Regions from separate parts of the Homo sapiens genome. Here regions 1 and 3 are each linked to region 2. The links come from fine-mapping of genetic effects on gene expression. A gene starts in region 2. Each other region holds a variant in brackets. All regions are shown on one strand. Distances are from middle to middle. Region 1 overlaps SYNRG (synergin gamma). Region 2 holds the start of SYNRG (synergin gamma). Region 3 overlaps SYNRG (synergin gamma).

Evidence for each region.
Region 1: its variant is fine-mapped to the expression of SYNRG in whole blood (TOPMed, PIP above 0.99).
Region 3: its variant is fine-mapped to the expression of SYNRG in unexposed skin (GTEx, PIP above 0.99). The same link has a PIP of 0.9 or more in aorta, esophagus muscle, lung, monocytes, pancreas and sigmoid colon.

What each region holds. Positions count from the first base shown.
Region 1 is chr17:37,522,945-37,528,171 of GRCh38, forward strand. All of the region lies in intron 19 of SYNRG (synergin gamma), which reads right to left. Among named protein-coding and RNA genes, the nearest start is that of DUSP14, 36 kb to the left of the region's middle. The variant G/A (reference allele first, on the strand shown) is at 3,042.
Region 2 is chr17:37,606,364-37,611,549 of GRCh38, forward strand. It overlaps SYNRG (synergin gamma), which reads right to left and starts at 3,055. Exons shown (of 22, transcript NM_007247.6): 1 at 2,916-3,055. The coding sequence starts at 2,992. It overlaps DDX52 (DExD-box helicase 52), which reads right to left. Exons shown (of 15, transcript NM_007010.5): 15 at 3,376-5,186.
Region 3 is chr17:37,536,858-37,542,084 of GRCh38, forward strand. It overlaps SYNRG (synergin gamma), which reads right to left. Exons shown (of 22, transcript NM_007247.6): 15 at 5,115-5,227; 16 at 3,523-3,686; 17 at 2,335-2,388; 18 at 1,467-1,563. Among named protein-coding and RNA genes, the nearest start is that of DUSP14, 50 kb to the left of the region's middle. RefSeq lists an enhancer at 4,826-5,227. The variant T/A (reference allele first, on the strand shown) is at 2,182.

The DNA of each region.
Region 1 (5,227 bases), 83 kb before region 2:
TTTTAAGTTTAATCTGCACTAATAACATTTTCTCCATCACTTTTTAGCACTGAGGACATCCCTCAGTCCTGACCAAACAGGGACAGTTGGTTGCCCTGTGATAGACATAAATAACCCTGAAAGCTAGACAAGAGTAAAATTTAAGAACTAGAATGTTTTAAGTATTACCACTATTTTTAATATAATATATGTAACTGCAAGTTTATATCATTTGTGTTTTGTCTTGCTTTTGAGATAGAATCTCACTCTGTCACCCAGGGTGGAGTGCAGGGGCGTGTGTGATCATGGCTCACTGCAGCCTCAAACTCTTGGGATCAAGCAATCCTTTTGCCTCAGCCTCCTGAGTAGCTGGGACTACAGGTGTGTGCCACTACACCTGGCTACTTTTTATTTTTAGTAGAGATGAGGTCTCGCTATGTTGCCCAGGCTGGTCTAGAACTTCTGGCCTCAAGCAATCCTCCCACCTCAGCTTTCCAAAGTGTTGGAATTAGAGGCATGAGCCACTGCACCCAGTCTTCATTTAATTTTTAGTAATAACGGTGTTTAACAACTGGCTCATAAAATTCCTGAACATTTAACAATCCACTCTTGCAAGCCAGTAAGAACTGGATTTAACACACTAGTGCGACAGAATGGAATCTCAGGTGGGAGCCTAGAAGTTGAGGAGTTCCTCTCAGAGGGCTCATCCTCACTCTAATGCAGGAGGTGAGATCATCAGCTGTGTCTGAAATAGCAGTAGCCTTGTGAGCTCCAAGCAGCAAACTCTGGAGGTGTGATTGTCTCCACCAGCACACAGTGGGTCAAGGTGGGGGGAGAAGGTGGATGGCTGCACTGATTCCAGTTGGGTTTGGTCTAATGAGTATGACTGAAGGGAGTGAGGAGGGATGCCCCATGCACTGTGGAGAGTAAGGAGGTGAGAAAAGAAGTGAAGACAGAAGAGGGCTGACAGGAACACAGTAAAAGAGACAACATCCTGTCTTGAGAACCAAAAACAAGAGCAGTGCCAGTGAAGAGTGAGACAACGGGAGGGTCGCCAATCTGGACTCAGGAAGTTCGATGTCGGGGCTCGAGACTGCACAGGCGCTGCACAATGTTTGCTAACACAGCCCATCGTGGTGATGCCAGTGGGTGGCTGAAGTGCAGGGGAAGCGAGGGCTCTGTGGGCCAGGCAGTCAAGCATCTGGGAGCCTGGCATGGCAGTTGGTTTGTCTTCATGGATACTGAGGTGACCCAGGATGATGGCAAATTCCTGCCAAATTAACAGCTACATTTCCCATAGTTCTTCCAGTCTGAACCACTGAGGAGTTTCCACGTCGTTTTTGAGCAACAAAGCAAAATTATATGATCTGTATTTTTCCTCACCAGGAAAAAAAAAGATTTCTCCTTATAAAAATGTGTAGATTATGTATGATGTTCCCTGTTCCTTTCTAATTTGAAATAATAAACCATGAACTAGCTCCACAAATCTTTCTTAAACACATTTGAGCTAGATCCACTGAGATCACAGCAGGGGAAGGAAGAACACACGGTTTTCAGAGAAGAAAAGGTGAGGTGTATGTTTCAACTGTGTGCAAAAGGACTCTGGTGTAGGTGATCAAAGTAAACTTACATGGCCTTAGCCAAGTCATAGGATATTTTTTCTTTTCTCTCTTTTCTTTTGTAGTGCAACTGTGGTCACTCTGGTCAAATGTGGAAGACGCTGGTGCTAACGCTTGTTCTGCAGTCAGTCATCTGTAAAATGGTAACTATTTCACTTGCCCTACACCTCTCTCCCATTTCTATATATCTCAGATGGACATAAAACATGCTCTGGAAGTGAAAAGTAGTCTATATGATGATCACAATTATTCACTTTGACGAACTCTTAGCAAGCTTTTAAAAGAGGTTAAAACATAGTATCATCTCTGTAATCCACATTACAGATAGTCATCATGTTACTGAATCAGGGCTATTTGAGAAATAATTAGAATCTGGGAAAACTCTGAATCCTGAAATCAATCAAATTAATAGAAGCCCCTTAATATCTGTTTACCAAAGGCATAAGGAAAGCAAATGAAAAGATCATACTGTAATCGCCAATGAAAACCATAAGGCTCTGCATAAATGACCCTGTGATCAAATTACTCTTTCAGCTGACAAAATTAACCTTCTTAAGTACACATGTATAAACAGGGTGTTTATTGTAGTGTAATATTAACAGTTTGGCACCAATCATATAAGATAACAGTTTGGCTGTCATCATATAAGAAGGTATGCCCTCTACAAGTCACCTTAAATTGATCATCTCCTTATTTGGCAAGTATTTCATGCATTTAGTTAAGATTTAAAAAAATATATACATATTATATATGGCCTACTGACACTGATAAGTCCCAATGTCAGACTGAGATATATAATCCTGAATCTTTAGCCTACAATAAACTGCTACAATGGTGTCCAGGAAGATCCTTATTAAGGAAGAAGAGTTTGGTAGTAATTAGTGTTCTTCACCAATAATCTTTCTCCTTTTTATGGAATGGTAGGATGGGCCTTCCCTGCCCCTTTTTCAATCAGGCATTGGCCTGTAACTTGCCACAGTCAATAACTAAGCAAAAGTCACACGTAAGCCGGGAGTATGGTGGCTCACACCTGTAACCCCAGCACTTTGGGAGGCCGAGGTGGGTGGATCACCTGAGGTCAGGAGTTCAAGACCAGCCTGGCCAACATGGCAAAGCCCCGTCTCTACTAAAAATACAAAAAAATGCCGGGAGCGGTGGCTCACACCTGTAATCTCAGCACTTTGGGAGGCCAAGGCGGGCGGATCACGAGGTCAGGCTTTGGAGACCAGCCTGGCCAACATGGTGAAACCCCGTCTCTACTAAAAATACAAAAATTAGCCAGGTGTGGTGGCGCTTGCCTGTAATCCCAGCTATTCAGGAGGCTGAGGCAGGAGAATTGCTTGAACCCAGGAGGTGGAGGTTGAAGTGAGCCAAGATCGCGCCATTGCACTCCAGCCTGGGCAACAGAGCGAGACTCCGTCTCAAAAACAAAACAAAACAATT[G/A]GCCGGACGTGGTGGCGGGTGCCTGTAATCCCAGCTATTTGGGAAGCTGAGGTAGGAGAATAGCTTGAACCCAAGAGATGGAGGCTGCAGTGAGCTGAGATTGCACCACTGCACTCCAGCCTGGGCAACAGAGGAAGATGCCATCTCAAAAAAAAAAAAAGAGTGTCACCTCTGGGAAGAAGCCTTTAAGACCAATGTGCTATTTCTCATGTTTCCTTGACACTCCCACGGTGACCAGCTATGTTCCACATGGTGGAGGCTCTGTCAACCTGGGTCCCTGGGTAAGGACATGGCACAGAGCCCCCCACCAACTTGAGATGGACACATAGCCTGAGCAAGAAATAAAGCTTTGCTTTTGCTAAGATAGAAGAAACTATTTGTTACTGAAGCATAACCTAGTCTAATTTGACTGATACAAAGGGTGATCTAGACACAGGTTCCATAGGCAATTATAAAGTTTTGGTATTTGCTTGGTTACAATGTCTTGTATAATCTTTCCTATTGCTGCTGTAACAAAGCACAAACTTAATGGCTTAAAACAACATAAATGTATCCTCTTACAGTTGTGGATTTCAGAAGTCTAAAATGGGTGAGAAGGACTGCATTCCTTCTAGGAGTTCTAGGGGAAAATCTGTTTCCTTGCCTTTTCTAGCTTCTAGGGACGACCTCTACATTCCCTGACTTGTGGTCCCATCTTCAAAGCCAGCAGGTAGCATCTGCCACTCTCTTCTTCTCTCTGCTTCTGTTGTCACATCACTTTTTCTCACTCTTCCCCTCCTACCTTCCCCTTCTAAGGATCCATGTGATGACATTGGGGTCACCTGGATAATCCAGGATACCTTCCCCAAAGAAAGGCCTTTAACTTAATCCCATTTGCAAAGGTAACATATTGACAAGTTCCCAGGACATGGGTAGCTTTGAGGGGGCCATCATTCTGTCTACCACAGCTGCCTTCTGTCAACTGAGGACAGCCATGCAGAGACATAGTAAAGATCCTGTCTCTAAAACATTGTGCAGACTGGCAAGATGACAAAAATGCTATCACCATTGAAAATAAACTGTTCTCCTGATATGTCACAGCAATAGGAAATAAGGACTCTGAAATTCACTGGTCAATTTCACATTGAAAGGAAGTAGTAAAGAATTCATATTTCACTGAGGTGAACAGTGGAATCAGAGAGCCTGTATGATTGCCAGTTGACTAAAATTCAGGCGAATAACAACCTTTTCTCTTCTCTTAGATTTTATATGGCAAAAATCGATTAATTTTCCAGGACAGAATTCTCTGTTTGTTCCAAACCTACTGAACTTCAACCCACTTCACAAGATAAAACCTTAGATGACAAGTCACTTGGGAGCCAATCTCAGAGTGCATCACATCTCACTAAACCAGGTGAGTTTCACCTCTTGAGAAAGAAGCAGGCCTTCAGTCTGTGCCTGGAGGAGACATGCTTCTACCACAAGAGGGAGTCTTAGTCCATGGATAAAGAGTATCAAAGAGAAAGAGAGCATAAAGCTTTGCCAGTACAGTCAGCCCTCGGTATCCATGGGTTCCACATCTGTGGGTTCAACCAACCTCAGATCAAAAATATTCGGAGGAAAAAATAGAAAAAAACAAAAATGATACAAATAAAAAAATCCAATACATATAATAACTATTTACGCAGCATTTACATTGTATTAGGTGTTATAAGTAATCTAGAGATTCTTTAAAATACACAGGAGGATGTGCATAGGTTATATGCAAATCCTATGCCATTTCTTATCAGGAACTCGAACGTCTGCAGATTTTTATATCCAGAAATGGGGGATGTCCTGGAACCAATTCCCCCCCCATGGACAGGGGAATGACTGTGTCATTTCCAGCTTAAATAAACATCAAGGAGCCACAATTTGGAGTTTAAGACGGTGTACCCTGCCTTCCTTAGCCCAAGCATGACTACTGTGATGCCGCACTACATTCTGTGACTTTCACTGGAGAAAGTGATGCAGCTGTCTTCCGATAGGAACAGCCTCACAGAGTCTTCATGGGAAGAAATAAGTCATTTTCAGTAACTTAAAAGCTGGAAGTAACATAGAGTAGGAAGAAGAATGGACTCTGAAATGATACAGATTCAAATCACAGACTTGTCAGTTTCAGTCAAGTTTCATCTTCTCAAAGCCCTAATTTCTTCACCTGTAAAACT
Region 2 (5,186 bases):
CTAGAAGCAGTGAAAGAAGAAAAGATGAGGAAGCCCTCTAAAAGCTTGTAAAAGATCAGGAAAAAATAGACAAGTTCACAGATGATAACATCCCAGAAGAACGTGACCTCTTTGTTCCACTTTACTTTGTACCACAGTTATTTTGTACATTCTCCAAGGATGGGGACCATGTTTTGATGTCTTTTTAATTCATTACAGCATCAAGAACAGTACCTTACCCATGTAAGCATTCAATGACTACAGACTAATCCAGATCTTTCAACTCTTTTTTTTTTCTGCCTTGATTAAAGAAAAAAAAAATTTATACTTCTCATCTCTTGGGCAAATTTTGCCCTTTATACAACTCTACCATTTATTCTAAAGTAGCTCATCCAGGACACCAATCAAAAGTAGGGTAATATTAAATTTGGAAAACGTTATTGTGTTTTGCTTAGCCTCTTAGAATATAGAGAAGTATCTAAACAATACAGTCAGTTATAGTTCATGGATTTTCTCCATTAAAGGTGTAGAGAAGTTGCCTGTTTTTTTTCTTCAAATATACTTAGGTTGCCATAATGTTAAGTTTCCTTATAAAATAATTTCAGGGAGGGTGGGTGGCAAAAAGAAAATTAAAAAGGAAATAAAATAACTTCAGCCTTTACACCATTACTCTCTAAAAAAAATAATATTCCTTTTTCTATTGAGGATACAGCTTCTCAGCCTCAGAAAGTTGCCAATATATGTAACATATGTACCATACATTTTTCAAGGTAAGAATCATTTTAACCACTTCTTTCTCTCCTGTATATCGTTTACAGTTTTAGAATGCAGATGTTGCTACATTTACAAAGGGGGGAAATTTTAAAATCATTCTAATTTCTATCAAAATTCAACCCATATTTATTTTAAAAATTTGTGTCCATGGACCAATGATACTCAAATACTGCAAACTAAAGGGAATAATGCACTTGAATTTCTGAACCTGAGGTCCTCCCCATCCAAAAACATTTTTTAAGTAAATAAAAATTTGGGCCTAGATATCAATTCTTCTAAGTTTACATTTTCCCAGAACTTGGTGCCATGATTAATCATATACTTGATCAAATTAATACCATCCAGGGACATTTTAGAAACTGTAATCACATATAGGAAATAAATAGAGGATGCCGGGCGTGGTGACTCAAGCCTGTAATTCTAGAACTTTGGGAGGCCAAGGTGGGCGGATCACTTGAGGCCAGGAGTTTGAGACCAGCCTGGCTAACATGGTGAAACCCCGTCTCTACTAAAAATACAGAAATTAGCTGGGCGTGGTGGCGCACGCCTGTAATCCCAGCTACTTGGGAGGCTGAGGCAGAAGAATCGCTTGAACCCGGGAGGTCGAGGTTGCAGTGAGCCGACATCGTGCCACTGCACTCTAGCCTGGGTGACAGAACGAGACTCTGTCTCAATCGATCAATCAACAAAATTAGCCGGGCATGGTGGCGCGCACCTGTAATCCCAGCTGCTCCGAGGCTGAGGCAAGAGAATCGCTTGGACCCAGGAGGCAGAGGTTGCAGCGGGTCGAGATCACGCCGCCGCACTCTGGCCTGGGCAACAGAGCAAGACTTCCTCTCAAAAAAAAAAAAAAAAAAAAAAAAACAAGACAAAAGAAAAAGAAAAAACAAATAGAAGGGAATTATTACATATGTTTCTTCTCCAGCCAGAAACTGGCTTACACGAAGTATTTATTTTTTAAAAAACCCTCTAATGAAACAACGGAGAGAACAAAAGAGAAAGCAAAAAGTTTAAAAATCTAAAGTTAAAGATGTGCAGAGGAAATGAAAAATGGGGTTACACACAGGTGGTTTATTGAACAGCCACTGCTCGTTTCCTGACAAGCACCTGCAAGAGGTGATAACTTTAAGGTCCTTACACTTTTGTAGTGTTCACGACTCCGAAATTGAAACACTGCATATAAAAAAAAAACCTAACACTTCGTTTTCCAAAGACAATTTAGGATACTGAAGATGCAAAGCTACTTTTACCTCCAAATGTGTGTGCTGTTGTGTGTTGGTTAGTAAAACAAAATCAGACTAGGTCATTATAGAAGTGGAGTGAAAACTTCCTAGAATAAAATATTTCCTTAAATGATAACGAATCTGTCAGCTTGTAAAACGTACATCTCCCTTACCATTCTGGGTATAAGAACCACGGCAGTTCTTGGCTGAAATGTGGCAGAGGGCAGATTTGTTTAAGGGCTGAGTCTGGAAGCTTTGTTCTAATAAATGCGCAACTGCTGTTTAACAGTGCACTTTCTTTGTTTTTAAATGCCTTTTTAAAAAGAAGACAGACAAGTCTTAAGAGTTAGTGTACAAGACAAGAACTCTATCTCAAGACCATTACTAATTCAGAGGTCTTTAGATGTTCCTGCTGTTTGTCGCGGGTTAAGGAAATAAAGAGGACAGGACACTCTAAAAGGGGAAGAGACAAATAGTCCACACACACACCCCCCTTGGAAACAGTCCTCCAGCTTTGTGAACAGATTTTTAAAGCCCTCCCTCCAACATATCCGGTTAAGTCTAGAAAGCCCAAGGAAAGGGAAGACCCTGGTCGCTTCAGAGGCAGCTAGGACTAGGAGCGGAGTCGCGGTTCCTGATTTGCCCCGCCCCCCCCCACCCCAAGAGGACCCTCATCTTCTCTCCCCTCCCACACTGGGCGCGCGCTCGCTCCCCGCTCGATTCCAGGCGGCCGGCGCCCCCAACTGATCCCGGAACACCAGCGTCCAGCACCTGGGCTCCACACGCCCCTTTCGGCCTGGGTCCCTGGGGGATGACCCTCCTCCCGCAGCCCAGTTCCAAGGAAAAGGATCAGGGCTGGAGAAAACTGCCATAACTGCCAAGCGCCCCTCGCCGCCCCCGCGGAGGCCAGCGGGCTCCCGCCCGGCTCTTCACACCTACCCGCCTCCCCCGGCGGACCCCGCGCCAGCTCCCGCGGCCCCGCCGCCACCAGAACCAGCTCCTGGCCGCAGCGCCATCTTGCTCCCGACCTGCCGCTGCCTTCGCCGCCGCCACCTTATCAGCAGCTGTCAGCTGAACACAGCCACTTCCGGGTCAAACACCAGGCCCCACCTCGCCGCGGACCGGGCGATGGGGCGGGGCCTCGCGCCCACGTGACTCCCCCGGCCCTCGGGGAGGCGTGGCGCGCCCACGGCACGTGACCCGGCGCCGCAGGGGTCCCCCAGATTCAATTCTAGCTCTCGGGCTGGTGGGGCGGTCGCGGGCGCCTCTCCAAGGGAGCTGATTCATTGTCTGGTAGGCCCTCTGCAGGGCCCAGCTGGCGGCCCAGTGGCAAAGCGCCGTTGGTCCTCCGTTTGAAAACCATGATCGCGGTTAGTGGAAAGAGTAGGCTGAGTCCTGATTTTTAAACTATACGGTGGGTACACTGGTGTTCTTTTATTGTTACTCTTTACACACAAAGAACAGATAGGTCCTGAAGGGCCCTTTGATAGTCTCGCAGCACTGATGAGTGATCAGCTCTCCCCTCTTTCTCTGGAACTCGGTAGCTTCATGTTGGCACCTATCACAGACGCTGAAGGCATTTAAATTTTATTTTAAATCAACCAAGAGCCCAAAAACCCAACCCATATTTCGAAAAAACTCCAAGGTGTACTACTCTTGTTTGGTTCTGCCATCCTGCCACCTTACAGTCCTTTTGTTTTTCCTATTCTTGCAGGCAAGTGCAAAACAGTGGTTTTTGGAAGGCAATTCATAATTACTCTGAAGCTATTTCGGCATATTTTTTACTGATTTTTTTTTTTTTTGAGACAGGGTCTTGCTCTGTTGTCCAGGCTGGAGTGCAGTGGCATGATCATGGCTCACAGCAGCCTCAGCCTCCCTGGCTCAAGCGATCCTCTCGCCTCAGCCTCCTGAGTAGCTGGGACCACAGGCATGCACCACCACACCGGGCCAATTTTTTTTTTTTTTTTTTTTTTTTTTTTTGTAGAGATAGGATCTATGTTGCCCAGGCTAGTTTCAAACTGCTAGGCTCAAGCTATGCTCCCACCTCGGCCTCCAAGTGCCAGGGTGTGAGCCACATGCCTGGGCTGTGATTTTTTTTTTTCTTTTAATCAAACTACTGTCTGGAAGTAAAACATGAAAGTTGAGTAATTTTCTCAAGCACGTAGTTTGCTTGCTAACAAGTAATGGATTAATTAGCTTTACGTTTTCACTCTTGTCTCAAGGTTTTTACTGGGTAATAATTTGTAATAAGTTATTAGGCACAAACCACTGGTCAGGAACTGTACACGCATTTTAAAAAATCCTCAGTATCCTTAGGAGTTACAATTGGCATCTTACAGATGAGAAAATCAAGGTTAGAAACAGTTACTGTCATTTGTCCAGATCATACAGCTACAAGCAATGAGGATCAGGATTCAAATCCAGGCCAGTTTGACTCTAAAGTCCTTGCTCATTTCACCAGAGCCAGCTATTCAATTTTTATGTTTTTTCTTTTGCTGTAACTGCCTGTTCACTAATTTCACTCCTTCCCTTCCTTGTGTGAAGCTGAAATTTATGTAGCACATAGTTCCAACTGCTTTGAAGGAGCTAAATTTAGTATTAATACACTGACTAAGTTGATACAGGTTACTGTAGATACTTTAAACAGACACAATAAAGTCAAGGATCATAGATGTGACCTCAGTTTGTCCTGGAATCCTTTTTGTTCCTCTTCTTTGCCTATTGGTTTTTACATTTGCAGGATTCAACTCAGGATGTCGGCCTTCCATGACATCCCCAATCTGGGTTAGATGCCCTCTTGTGATGCTTTAGCATCATGGCCTTACATCTAACAGAGCACTTGCCACACTAGTCATGTGCTACATGATGATGTTTTGGTCAGCCACAGACAGCAGATACAATGGTGGGATGAGAAGTGGGGGTGGAAGACAGTGAGACTGATGATCCTGACCTTTTGTATGCCTAGCATAATGTGTGTGTTTGTGCCATGGTTTTTAACAAAAAAGTTTTAGAAGTAAATAGTAAAACAAAACAAACAAACAAAAATTAATAGAAAAAAAGCTTCTAGAATAAGGATATAAAGAAATAAAGTATTTTTCTACAGCTGTACATTTGCATTTTAGGCTAAGTGTTATGACAAGAATCAAAAAAGTTTATAAAGGCCGGATATAGTGGCTCACTCCAGGTCAGGAGTTTGAGACCAGCCTGGCC
Region 3 (5,227 bases), 69 kb before region 2:
CAATGTAACAGTCACCAAAGACATGACCCCGATCTCTCTAAGTGAACACTGGAGGAATTCCAGGGGATCTTCAGAGCGGGGCCTCAGCAGCCCTGTGTCAGCACTACGGCTTTTCTTCTTCCTTTCCCAAGAGAGGGGCAGAAATTACTGCCCACCCTAAGCCAAGTGAGGGGGCTTCTAAGAGAATCTTCCATAGATACAAGGATACTAGGAGAAAAGACAGGTGCCCCATTTCCTGGTGGACATCTGCTTATGCAGAACTGTGCCTGTTTGAGCAGGAAAAGAAGACCCCAAGTGAGGTGGCAGGAGTAAGGCAGAGACTACATCCCTTCACTCTCCACTCATCCAGCAAATATTTTTGAGTGCCAACTACGTGCAAGACACTAGATTAGGTGTTGGGGACACACCAGTGAACAAAACAGACCAAAATCCTTGCCTTCTTGGAGGTTCATTCTAGTGAAGGGAGACAGAGAGTAAAAACAACAAGTAGCTAGGTGCAGTGGCTCACGCCTGTGATCCCAGCACTTCGGGAGGCCAAGGTGGGTGGGTCGCTTGAGCTCAGGAGTTCGAGACCAGCCTGGGCAACATGGCGGAAACCTGTCTCTACAAAAACTACAAAAATTAGCTGGGTGCATGGTGGTGCACACCTGTGGTTCCAGCTACTTGGGAGGCTGAGGTGGGATGATTGCTTGCGCCTGGGAGGTGGACGCTGCAGTGAGTCATGACTACATCACTACACTCCAACCTGGGTGACAGAGTGTGAACCTGTCTTAAAAAAGAAAAGAAAAGAAAAGAATAATAAGTAACATATGTAAGAAATTAAAGGTAATAGGGCTAAGGAGAAAATCCAGCAGAGAATGGGATGGGAAGTACCGGGGTAGGGAGAGACGATACTCTTTGGAGAGATGGATGCTAGGAAAGATTTCACTCAGAAGCTGACATTTGAGTAAAGATTTGAAAAAGATTAGGGTCCAGCATGTGTGGCTCTGGCCACGGGCCAAGCCTGAGCTTGGGGAAGGGAGGAACACCGAAGTGGACAGAGACTACACTTTCCCGTTGGACTGACACATCAAATTGCTGCAGATGGCCAGGAGGTTAAGGACTCTGTGGTGTCATTAAGCGGTCGAGAGAAAGAATATAGAGTATGGTAAGGAATTGATGGGAGACAAGATGATTTTACTTTAGTGCATCGGTAGTTCAGATTCTTTGATAAACCAGTAACACAGATATAATTTTACATTTTTGCTATTACGTATATAACAAGGATGAGGAAACTTAGCCATAGAGACTTTTTAATTAAGTCCAATAGTTTACTGCCTGTAGCTTGAGTGTCTTACCCACAAATACAGATGCTTCTTACTGAAGTCATATGTAACTTGAGAGATCTAGCTTAAAATAATTAAAGGGAAAACTGAAAATAATGCAAAGGGCCATCATTTTCAATAGTAAAATATGAAAGAACATACCTAATAAATATTCCATGCCTTGAGCTGACTGAATTACTTCTGTGCAAACAGAACTACTACTGATTCCATTTAAGGTATCATTTGCCTTCTTAATGACCTACAAGAAATGAAATCACATCACCTTACATAACTGAGAAAAGTCATTGCAAATCAATTTACTATTAGTAGAAAACCCAACCGAAAAGCCAGGAGGTGTCAAAAAATCTCATTTTATCCTTGAAGAAACAATCCTCCATTTCTCTGGAAGAGAAAATATGTTTTTTTCCTTTTGTTTTGTTTTGCTTTGTTTTGAGACGGAGTCTCGCTCTGTAGCACAGGTTGGAGTGCAGTGGCAAGATCTCGGCTCACTGAACCCCTGACTCCCGGGTTCAAGTGATTCTCCTGCCTCAGTTTCCTGAGTAGCTGAGATTACAGGCACGTGCCACCACGCCTGGCTAATTTTTGCATTTTTAGTAGAGACAGGGTTTCACCATGTTGGTCAGGCTGGTCTCAAACTCCTGACCTCGTGATCCGCCCGCCTTGGCCTCCCAAAGTGCTGGGATTATAGGTGTTGAGCCACCGCACCCAGCCAAGACAGGTTCTTTAGCTTAAATATTATTTTGATTTAGTCAGAGTTAATGAAATCACTTTGTTATTTCTTAAACACAATGACAGATGAGGGGATGACTGACACATGAGCCGGTCTGCTATTGTAAGTGTGAAAGAAGCCTCACCT[T/A]AGATGCATGACTTCCACAGAGTTACTCTTTGCCCAGGGACATCCAAGTAAGGCTCTCCTGAAGTTTGCCTCTGTCAATTCAAATGAACCAAGAAGGCAAAAAGGCACAAAAGAGCACTCACATATGTGTGAACGCGTAAGTGACATACTCACATTCAGGGCACTCCCCAGGCATCTCTGCCATTCATATGCATATCTCTCATTTTCCTGTGAATTTGTTAAAAAGAACTGGGTTAAACACACAAACCTGGAATCTTCTATTGATGACTCTGTCAATTCAAAGTGCTTGGAGGACTTTCCTTTTTATTACGATCACTCTAGTTCAAGCAGTTTATGTTTTTTTTGTTTTTGTTTTTGTTTTGAGATAGGGTCTTGCTCTGTTGCCCAGGCTGAAGTGCAGTGGCATGATTTCTGCTCACTGCACTGGACGCAAGCAATCCTCCCACCTCAGCCTCCAGAGCAGCTGGGACTACAGGCACGCACCACCACATGAGGCTAATTTTTGTATTTTTGGTAGAGGTGGGGTTTCACCATGTTGCTCAGGCTTGTCTTGAACTCCTGAGCTCGAGTGATCTGCCCGACTTGGCCTTCCAAAGTGCTGAGATTACAGGCATGAGCCACCATGCCCAGCCGCAGTTTATCTTTTTGAACTCACTAATAACTATGTTAAATTACTAATAAATGTAACTTCTGAGCACAGGACCTGTGAGTCTAAGGGACATGCTTTCCAGCAGCTTCCCCCTGTGAGTGTTGCCTCATTTGTTCCATCAGTAACAGTGTAAGCCTTTCTTCGGAGGCACTCAGCATGTAGCTATCTGGTACAGAAACTGCTATTAAGCCACTGGCTTTCCACGCCCCAGTTATAACGCTGTGTGGCTGTGTGTGAGGACGTGGCCCATGTGCACATGTAACAAGGAGTAGGGAAAGGTGGGAAATTAAGTGTGTTGACCATAGGAGGAACATAGCGTGGCACTAAGATGCAGCAGACAGAAATAAAAAATTCAGAATATTTTCCCTGTCTCCTCTATTTTGAGGTTTCATGAAGACAATAAAGTCTAAGTGCTCAAGAAGAATTATACAAACACTGCCATCCTTGTGAAGTCCCATGAATAGTTTTGGTTTTAGGGTCACTGATTAGTTTCAGTGGGTGCCACACCTGGGAAATGTTTTCACCCAGGGCTAATGTTACCCTTGCCTCACTTTAATTACATAGTTTATGTCTGGTGCTTTGTGTCTTTCTGCCCCTCATTTTCCCCATGTGAAAGCTGACAGCATTCTTTCTTGGGGCCCTGTGTGCTTGCTGGTCTGTTACCCACCCCTTGTAGAAAGCTCTCCTCTCACCTCCACCTCTCCCGTCAGGTCTTTGTACTTGTCTCGGATGACGGGCAGGGCGGGCTTCTCATTCAGAGTATTGGAACGGTCTCTGAAAGGCTGCTCCAAAGCTGGAGAAGGAGAAGAACGGCTTATTTCTTTATCACCAAGGCTCAAACTCCTCTTGTGTGATCCTGGGAGAAGGGGATAATACAGTCAAAGGTTTTGGCTACTCACCTTAGTTCAGGCAGAGGCTCTTCCTCGCTACCACAACCCTCTTCTTTTTTTTTTTTTTTTTTTTTTGAGACAGATTCTTGCTCTGTCGCTCAGACTGGAGTACGGTGGTGTGATCTCGGCTCAGTGCAACCTCCGCCTCCTGGGTTCAAGCAATTCTCCTGCCTCAGCCTCCTGAGTAGCTGGGACTACAGGTGCACACCATCATGCCTGGCTAATTTTTGTATTTTTAGTAGATACACGGTTTCATTGTGTTGGCCAGGCTGGTCTCGAACTCCTGATCTCAAGTTATCTGCCTGCCTCCCCTCCCAAAGCGTTGAGATTACAGGTGTGAGCCACCGCGCCCAGCCCACGACCCTCTTCTTCAGATGCTTATGTCATGAGGCATTCACAAACACATTCCTCATTCATTCTTTCTGGGAAGCTACATGTTAAATCTTTTCTACTGTTCTCTCTTGCACGGTTTCCCTGCGTTTCGTTTTCAACATGACTCTTCTCTGATCTATCACAAGTCTTCCATAATGCCCAGTGCAGAATCACTGGAGTCTGGAGAACAAAAGCACCTTTCTAAATATCAGTATGTAAGAGTTGTGTGGCTTTTCCAGTCATTTGTTATGGATTTGTAACCGAGTTCCTTCACAGTCTCTCAATCCAGTTGAAATCAACGACCCCTCCTGTCAGGATGAGATTAAAGCAGAAGAGGCAAACTCAAATGCCTTCAGAGACCAGGCAAGTAAAGTGAACAACTTAAGTAGGTCCGCTGAGACAGGAAGCGGTGGGGATTATGGTAGGAGAGAGAGAATGACCCACCTACAGGGAGTGGTGCTCTTCGGCTCCAGCTGCCAACATATGGGACTGTAGACCTACTAGTGCCAGATATTATGACTTCTCAAGAAAAGTTGGAAATCCAGATTGGGAAATCTCATGTCTTTTAAATACTGGCAATTACTTCGTACTTAAAAATCTTTTGTGTGGGTCAATGTGATATGCAGGCTAGATGCAGATCCCCGGCCCCCACTTTGCAACCTTTGGATTAAAAGACATTATCTGTGCTCAGGGAACATGAGCGGAGCTAATGTGCCTACAAGTGGCTCGAATCCATTTATCTGGCTCTTTTAACACAGCACACCTCTAACCAAACGAGCTAATGAGCAATACCTGCATGCTGTGCTTGTTTTTAGCCCATAAAGCAGTTATCTGAGGGATGCTGATTTTGACTCCCGTCTCAGGGAAATCTTTATTATAGCTATCTGTAATTGACCCTGATTTCAAAGATTAGAACAATCTATTTCCTGCGAAACCAGAGAGCAACATTTTATTCTTAAGAACATCTAACATCTCAGTGGAAAAAAACCACAATAGTAAAATCTACCTTGGAAGCTACTCACCTTGAACAGAAAGGTCAAAGGTTGCCAGCTCACTTTTGATCATTTCTTCACTGGATTTCATTTTGCTTTGTGAAGTGGCTACTAAGAAGTCAAATTTGCTGATTTTGGGCTTT